Linked DNA regions of Homo sapiens: regions 1 and 2 are each linked to region 3. The links come from fine-mapping of genetic effects on gene expression. A gene starts in region 3. Each other region holds a variant in brackets. All regions are shown on one strand. Distances are from middle to middle.

Region 1 (2,842 bases), 28 kb after region 3:
CCCTCAAACGTTAAGAGTGATGTCAGCAGATGTGCAGCGTGGGATGGGCTCTGGCAGCCTCCTCGAGTGCTCATCACCGGGCTTGAGACATGGAGAGAGCCAAATCCCCAAATCCCTTCCCACTTTCACTCCTGGTTTTGTTGTTGTTTGTCTTTTGAGGCAGAGTCTGGCTCTGCCTATTAAGCTGGAGTGCGGAGGCACAATCTTGGCTCACTGCAGTCTTGACCTCCTGGGCTCAAGCAATCCTCCCACCTCAGCCTCCTGAGTAGCTGGGACTATAGGCATGCACCACCACGGCTGATTAATGTTTGTAATTTTTTTTTTTTGTAGAGATGAGGTCTCACTGTGTTACTCAGGCTGGTCTCCATCTCCTGGCCTCAAGGAATCCTCCCACCTCGGCCTCTGAAAGTGCTGGGATTACAGGCATGAGCCACTGCGCCCGGCCTCATCCCTGGCTTTGAAGAGAGAAGGAGAGGCTTCCCAGCACTCAGAGGGACAGGAAGGAAGTGCCTTTCCAGCCTCAGTTGTGTACCCAGCACAGCAATACTGGTAAGAAATCAAGATAGCAAAGTCCTGCTTCTGCCTTTTTCTAGAACAGATGTCAGCAAGCTGTTCCTGTAAAGGAATCAGGATAGCAAAGTCCTGCTTCTGCCTTTTTCTAGAACAAATGTCAGCAAGCTGTTCCTGAAAAGGCCAAAGTGTACATATTTTAGGCTTTCCACACCCTGTGGTCTCTATCGCAGCTGCTCAGCCCTACACTTTAGCATGAAAGCAGCCATAAACAATATCTAACGAACAGGCTGGGAGCTGGAGTTAGCACACAGGCCATAGTTTACCAACCCCTGTTCCAGAGGAAATGAAAAATCTCTTTCTGGGCTAGGCATGGTGGCTCATGCCTATAATCTCAGTACTTTGGGAGGCTGAGGCAGGAGGATTGCTTAAGCCCAGGAGCTCGAGGCTGTAGTGAGCTATGATTGTGCCACTGAACTCCAGTCTGGGTGACACAGCAAGATCCTGTCTCTAAAAAAAAAAAACACTTTTTGAACCTCAGTTTCCACATCTGTAAAATGGGATGATCTAGTACTTACCTACCTCCCTGGGTGGCAGTGAGGATTTAAAGTGATAAAGTATACAAAGTGTGGAACCTAGTACTTGGTGGCGGGGTGGGGCGCTCTCACTTTGTTGCCCAGGCTGGTCTAGAATTCCTGGGCTCGAGCGATCCTCTCGCCTTGGCCTTTCAAAGTTCTGGGATTACAGGCATGAGTCACTGTGCCTGGCCTGATTATTAGTATTAATAGTTGTCATAGTTGCTTAACAAACAGAAAGTGCTTTTTTGAGACAGGGTCTCACTCTGTTACCCAGGCTGGAAGGCAGTGGCACGATCATGGCTCACTGCAGCCTCATCCTCCCTGGGCTCAGGTAATCCTCCCATCTCAGCCTCCCGAGTAGCTGGAACTATAGG[C/T]ATGTACCACCATGCTCAGCTAACTTTTAAAATTTTTTTGTAGAGATAGAATCTCACTGTGTAGACCAAGCTGATCTCAAACTCCTGGCCTCAAGCGATCTGCCTGCCTCGGCCTCCCTAAGTGTTGGGATTACACGCGTGAACCACCACACTTGGCCAGAAAGTGCTTCCACATATTAACTCACTTACACTTCATAACATCCTACAAGATAGGTATCCTCACCCCCAGTTTACAGATAAGGAAACTGAGGCCCAGCAGTTATAAGCTCAAGTCAGTCTGGCCCCAGAGCCTATGCTTGTAACTAGGTTTCTCTCTCTGTCTCTCTCTTTTTCATTATCCCATGTAACTCTCACAGCAGTGCCTTGAGATAGCTATTATTGGCCCTGTTTTGCAGATTTGGAAACTGAGGTTCAGTACGAGGAAATAACTGGTCCAAGGAAGTAAACACGGGCTCCACTGACCACAGGAGGCCAAGCTGGATTGCTGCCCAACATGTCAACATGCACTGCTCTGGCCCCCTCCTCCCTCGCTGTGCCTCCAGCTGTGTTTTCTTTGGATCTCTGCATGGCTTGGAGAAGCTGCGTCAGCCCATCTCCTCTCCTGCCCAGTCCCCACCCCCAACGCCCACCCCAGCTACCCCTCAGGGAGTGACCCCCTTCTCCTCACTCTGCCTGAGCATATGAGCACTGCAGCTCATGCGCCTGTGTTGGTCAGCATGGGTGCACCTGGGGACATGTGACAGGGGACCCAGCTGGAATGAGAGGAGGATTATCTGAGGAGGACAAATCTCAGGCCAGGAAGACCCCGATTACATCTCTCCAGACAGGCGAAATGATCATCTGTTTCCAGAATGCAACTGGACAAAACAGTCCGCGTGAGGGCTGGACATTTACCAAATGGGTAAAAGGAATCTAAAAGGGCTGGGGCTTGCTGAGTTCAGCCAGGCCAAAGCTGTGGACTGACTTTCCGTGATTTCTAAAGCTGGGAGATCTGTTGTTTTCTTCTTTCTTTCCCATTTCCTCCTTGAAGGCCAGTCCATTTTCTGTGTGAAGAACAGGCCACTTGGTGTCTGAAGTCACCTCCAGATTAGAAACTCAAGGATTCTAAGGTTCCTTATGAGGTGTTGCTTTCCCTGGGTCCTCGGTCCTAGGGCATTGTATCCCCACACCTGGTGCCTCTCCATCAGGGCTCGGATGTCAGCCTTGGGCAGCTCACTCTCTCTCTGACTTCCCTTTTCTTTTCTTCTTCATATCCCACCCTTCTTCCCAGTTTCTATGCCTCTGTCAGTCTGCTAGCTGACTCTGACTCATGGGGACCTCTTTCTGTGGTCCTCTAAGCCTCCTAACCGTCTGTGCTTTCCTTATACTCCACGTGGGCTT
Region 2 (2,842 bases), 23 kb after region 3:
GCCACGCCCGGCTAATTTTTTTTGTATTTTTAGTAGAGACGGGGTTTCACCGTGTTAGCCAGGATGGTCTCGATCTCCTGACCTTGTGATCCGCCCGCCTCGGCCTCCCAAAGTGCTGGGATTAAAGGCATGAGCCACCGCGCCCGGTCCACTGGTGGATTTTTTAATGAACCCTTGGAGCAAGGTGCTCTGAACAGCATCCCCGCCCCCACCCCCACCCCCACCTCCATCTACTGCTTACAGGGTTCCCGGACCCTAGGACAGGGCACAGAGTGGGTGCTTGCCACCTTTTTGTTGCCAAATGGACGAAAGAAAGGGGAAGCAATAATCATGTCTGCTGAGCATGTATTTAGCACCAAACACTCATCTAGGAAGGATGACTAACTCATCCTGATTTGCCTAGGACTTTCCCCATTGTGTCTTTTTTTTCTGATATAATCCACAGATTCACAAAAATAGTTCCATTTCCTTTTTTATTTAATTAATTAATTAATTTTTTTGAGACACAGTCGTGCTCTGTCACCAGGCTGCAGTGCGGTGGTGTGATCTTGGCTCACTGCAACCTCTGCCTCCTGGGTTCAAGTGATTCTCCTGCCTCAGCCTCCCAAGTAGCTGGGACTACAGCCATGTGCCACCACACCTGGCTAATTTTTGTATTTTTAGTGGAGACAGGGTTTTGCCATTTTGGCCAGGCTGGTCTTGAACTCCTGCCCTCAAGTGATCCGCCTGCCTTAGCCTCCCAAAGTGCTGGGATTACAGGTGTGACCCACCATGCCCAGCCTATTTATTTATTTTTATTTATTTATTTAAGATGGAGTTTCTCTCTTGTTGCCCAGGCTGGAGTGCAATGGCGCAATCTCGGCTCACTGCAACCTCCGCCTACCAGGTTCAAGCAATTCTCCTACCTCAGCCTCCCAAGTAGCTGGGATTACAGGCACCCACCACTACGCTCAGCTAATTTTTTGTATTTTTAGTAGAGATATGGTTTCGCTATGTTGGCCAGGCTGGTTTCGAACGCCTGACCTCAGGCAATCCACCTGCCTTGGCCTCCCAAAGTGCTGGGATTACAGGCGTGAGCCACCGCGCCCGGCCGCCTATTTATATTTTTAGAGACAGGGTCTTGCTCTGTTGCCCAGGCTGGAGTGCAGTGGTACAATCACGGCTCACTGAAGCCTCCACCTCTTGGGCTCAAGCGATCTTCCCACCTCAGCCTCCTGAGTAGCTAGGACTA[C/T]AGGCAGGTGGTACCATGTCATGTCCAGCTAAGTTTTGTATTTTTTGTAGAGACAGGTCTCACCATGTTGCCCAGGCTGATCTTGAACTCCTGGACCCAAGTGATCCTCTTGCCTTGGGCTCCCAAAGTGCTGGGATTACAGGCGTGAGCCACACATCCAGCCATCCCCATTTTGAAACCATTCCTGGGAACCCACTCAGTCCCTGGGAAACCTTACAACTGGTCATCCGAATTCTAGGTAATTTATTTAACCTTAACAACCTGTCAGACTGGCACTATTATGAACCCTCTTTAACAGGAAGTAGAGGTTGAAGCAATTCTGTGGCTGCTATTAGGGAATCCGTAGACTGTTCATGGAAGAGTGGAAGGTGGGCTTTATAGCCCGGTAGTTATGTACTTAGACTCTTGTGTCTGACAGACAAGAGTTTACACCCCAGGTTGTCAGTTCTTAGGTGTATGACATTGATCCCTTGCTTAAGCACTCAGATCTTCAATTTCCTCATCCTAAAATGGAAACAATAATTTAAGGTTATTGCAAGAATAAATGGGCCTGGTACATGACACATCATTAGTGCCAAATAAATGCTAGCTATCTTAATTAGGGGCACATACCACGAGCAAACAAAGCAGAAAAGGTGTAGAGGGAGAACAGAGAAAGTGTTAAGAGTATCCAGAGGAGGAAGTATCTGTGTTCCTTTGAACTCTAGTAACCTTCCTAGAGCCTGGCTCAAGCAGAAAACCTGGTGGATGTTAGTTTTCTTTCCTCTTATTTCCTTTCTTTTCTTTTTTTTTTTTTGTGGGGTGGAGTCTCGCTCTGTCACCCAGGCTGGAGTGCAGTGGCACGATCTCGGCTCACTGCAACCTCCACCTCCCAGGTTCAAGTGATTCTCTTGCCTCAGCCTCCCGAGTAGCTGGGACTAGAGGCGCCTGCCACCATGCCCAGCTAATTTTTGTATTTTTAGAGACAGGGTTTCACCGTGTTGGCCAGGTTGGTCTCGAACTTCTGACCTCAGGTGATCCGCCCGCCTTGGCCTCCCGAAGTGCTGGGATTACAGGCATGAGCCAGTGCACCTGGCCCTTTTTTATTTTTTTTTAACAACAACAACAAAATACATTTTATTTATTTAAGATAGGGTCTCACCATGTGCTCAGGCTGATCTCCAACTCTCGGGCTCAAGCAATCCTCCCACCTCAGCCCCCCAAGTAGCTGGGACTACAGGTGTGCACCACCATACCTGGCTGTTTTCTCTTCTTTTCTTTCTTTTTTTCCCTCTTTTTTGAGAGAGGGTCTCATTCTGTTGCCCAGACTGCTGTGCAGTGGTGCAGTTACGGCTCACTGCAGCCTCAACCTCCCCAGGCTCAGGTGATCCTCCCACCTCAGCCTCCTGAGTAGCTGAGACTACAGGTATGTGCCACCATACCCAGCTAATTTTTGTATTTTTCACAGAGATGAGGTTTCACCATGTTGCCCAGGCTGGTCTTGAACTCCTGAGCTCAAGAGATCTACCCACCTCAGCCTCCCGAAGTGCTGGTGTTACACCACATCTGGCCTTTCCTCTCGTTTTCTTTTTCTTTTTTTCTTTTTTTTTTTTTTTTTTGAGACAGAGTCTT
Region 3 (2,500 bases):
GGAAACACTATCAAAACTAAAAGGGAACTTGTAGGGCATCTTAATCAATCAACCAAGATAGGTACCAAGGCCCAAAACCATGTAGAGGCTTGTGCAAGATCACAAGCAGAGGTGCAATTTGAAGCTAGATTCTCCCACTCTTAAACTAGTGCCGGACAGACGAAGGCCTAGCACATGGGCTACGGAGCCCTAGTAGATTCCAGTCCCCACACTGAGCCAGGAGGGGTCGCTGCCCAGGGATACCTACAGCCATACTCGAGCTGGACAAGGCGCACGCTCTTTGTGGAAGCAAACACGTCCACCACCGCGTAGAGGGGCTGCGCAGCTGGCAGTCCCCGGGCGCTCGGGCCCATGTCCTCGCCGTTGATGATGATGTGCATGTCGGCCGTGCCATCGGGGCGCGGGCAAAAGAGGACACCCAGGCGGCTACGGCGCGCGGTCGGAGGCAGCACGTTCAGCTCATAGAGCTGGTCCAAGAGATGGCTGTAGAGCCCTGGCCGGCTGCGGCCCACCAGGCGGTCCCGGGGAATGCGAAACTGCTCAATGCGCAGATATGGTTCCACGAGGAGGGTTGGAGGTCGGCTGGGGGCCGCTGCCTCCGCCTCCGGGCGGCCCTCCCGGGGCACGCGGTTGTGGTGGCGCGTGATGGCGAAGACCCAGGTGTGGCCCAGGTTGACCAGATCGGGCAGAGAAAACTCGGGAACGGGGGCCAGACTGGCGGGGTCCAGCGCGGTCAGACCGAGACGCAGATGTCCGCACCAGCCCAGCTCTTTCTCCTCGATCTCGACCAGGAAGACCTGGCCCGGGGCCAGCGGCTCGCGGCTGAAGCACACGCCGTGGGCGAAGCTCTCCACGCGTGTGGCCCGCGTCCCAGAGGGGTCCACGCGGATGTTGGCACCGTGCACCCGATGGAAGCGGGTGGGAGGGGGCTCCGGGCGCTCGAGTCCCCAGAGTGCACCCGAATCCACGGGCTCGGAGGCAGCAGCCATCTCTCGGCCATAGGGCAGGCCAGCTGGCGCCGGGGGCTATTTTGGGCGGCGGGCAATGATGGTGACCGCAAGGCGACCTTGTAAGGCATTTCCCCCCTGACTCCCTTCCCCGAGCCTCTGCCCGGGGGTCCTAGCGCCGCTTTCTCAGCCATCCCGCCTACAACTTAGCCGTCCACAACAGGATCATCTGATCGCGTGCGCCCGGGCTACGATCTGCGAGGCCCGCGGACCTTGACCCGGCATTGACCGCCACCGCCCCCCAGGTCCGTAGGGACCAAAGAAGGGGCGGGAGGAAGACTGTCACGTGGCGCCGGAGTTCACGTGACTCGTACACATGACTTCCAGTCCCCGGGCGCCTCCTGGAGAGCAAGGACGCGGGGGAGCAGAGGTGAGCTGGCACCGGAGGCTGGAGGGGATCCCCGAGCCCGGGATCGGTGCGCGGCAGAGGAGGCTCGCGGGTGGGAGCTGGCGCTGGGGCCGGGGCTTCCCTCGCGGAGGCGCCGCCAGCAACTCCCCGGGGGCTGCTGCACGGAAGCGCTGAGGAGCGAGTCAACAGCCCCTCTGCTGCCTCCCGTAGATGATCCGAGCCGCGCCGCCGCCGCTGTTCCTGCTGCTGCTGCTGCTGCTGCTGCTAGTGTCCTGGGCGTCCCGAGGCGAGGCAGCCCCCGACCAGGACGAGATCCAGCGCCTCCCCGGGCTGGCCAAGCAGCCGTCTTTCCGCCAGTACTCCGGCTACCTCAAAGGCTCCGGCTCCAAGCACCTCCACTACTGGTCTGCCGCCCTGCCTTCTGGGCGGGATTGGGAGAAGAGATGACGGATGAGGGATGGGGGGTAGTTCTGCAGACCCCTGAGGATGCCTGGGAGCCGGGAGGGCTGGAAAGGGCCCCTCCAACTGCGCCAACCCTGCCCTGACCCCCCTCCCAGGTTTGTGGAGTCCCAGAAGGATCCCGAGAACAGCCCTGTGGTGCTTTGGCTCAATGGGGGTCCCGGCTGCAGCTCACTAGATGGGCTCCTCACAGAGCATGGCCCCTTCCTGGTGAGTGGACAGCAGGGGGAAAGCACAGTTCCCAAAGTAAAAGGCTGGGGAAAGCGAGAGAGGGGCTTTGTGATTTTCCAAAAAGTTTCCTTCCTTCTAAGCCTCGGGATTTTCCTCTATGCCATTGGCTTTGCTGCCTGTACCTCTCAGAGGTTTTACCCACATGTAAAGTGCCTCTCATGGTGGCCCTTTCCCTCCACCCAGCTGGCCCTTGGGACTTACTCAGCCATCTCTTTCCTCCTCAGGTCCAGCCAGATGGTGTCACCCTGGAGTACAACCCCTATTCTTGGAATCTGGTATAGCTGGAGCTGTGGGTGTGTCTGGGCACTTGGATGGGGTGGCATTTAGCTAATTTTTCCCTCCCCTCTAGATTGCCAATGTGTTATACCTGGAGTCCCCAGCTGGGGTGGGCTTCTCCTACTCCGATGACAAGTTTTATGCAACTAATGACACTGAGGTGAGTCTGGTGCCTGCC

Which allele goes with the higher level. Alleles are on the strand shown, and positions count from the first base shown. SD is a standard deviation of normalised expression in the study named. Not every link is listed here.
For the expression in visceral fat of the gene that starts at base 1,333 in region 3, allele C in region 1 goes with a lower level than allele T (small effect, 0.28 SD a copy in GTEx).

Evidence for each region. PIP is the estimated chance that this variant, and not a neighbour inherited with it, causes the effect. A credible set is the group of variants that fine-mapping cannot tell apart.
Region 1: its variant is the best candidate, but not a certain one, in a credible set for the expression of CTSA in visceral fat (GTEx, PIP 0.70).
Region 2: its variant is the best candidate, but not a certain one, in a credible set for the expression of CTSA in whole blood (GTEx, PIP 0.71).

The regions. Positions count from the first base shown.
Region 1 is chr20:45,917,869-45,920,710 of GRCh38, forward strand. No RefSeq gene overlaps it. Among named protein-coding and RNA genes, the nearest start is that of PLTP, 7.1 kb to the left of the region's middle. The variant C/T (reference allele first, on the strand shown) is at 1,463.
Region 2 is chr20:45,912,962-45,915,803 of GRCh38, forward strand. No RefSeq gene overlaps it. Among named protein-coding and RNA genes, the nearest start is that of PLTP, 2.2 kb to the left of the region's middle. The variant C/T (reference allele first, on the strand shown) is at 1,232.
Region 3 is chr20:45,890,003-45,892,502 of GRCh38, forward strand. It overlaps CTSA (cathepsin A), which reads left to right and starts at 1,333. Exons shown (of 15, transcript NM_000308.4): 1 at 1,333-1,377; 2 at 1,567-1,760; 3 at 1,914-2,025; 4 at 2,271-2,321; 5 at 2,396-2,482. The coding sequence starts at 1,567. NEURL2 (neuralized E3 ubiquitin protein ligase 2) reads right to left here and starts at 1,206. Exons shown (of 2, transcript NM_080749.4): 1 at 248-1,206. The coding sequence starts at 989. It also overlaps a transcript of SPATA25 not described here. RefSeq lists enhancers at 671-1,380, 1,620-1,669 and a silencer at 1,310-1,579.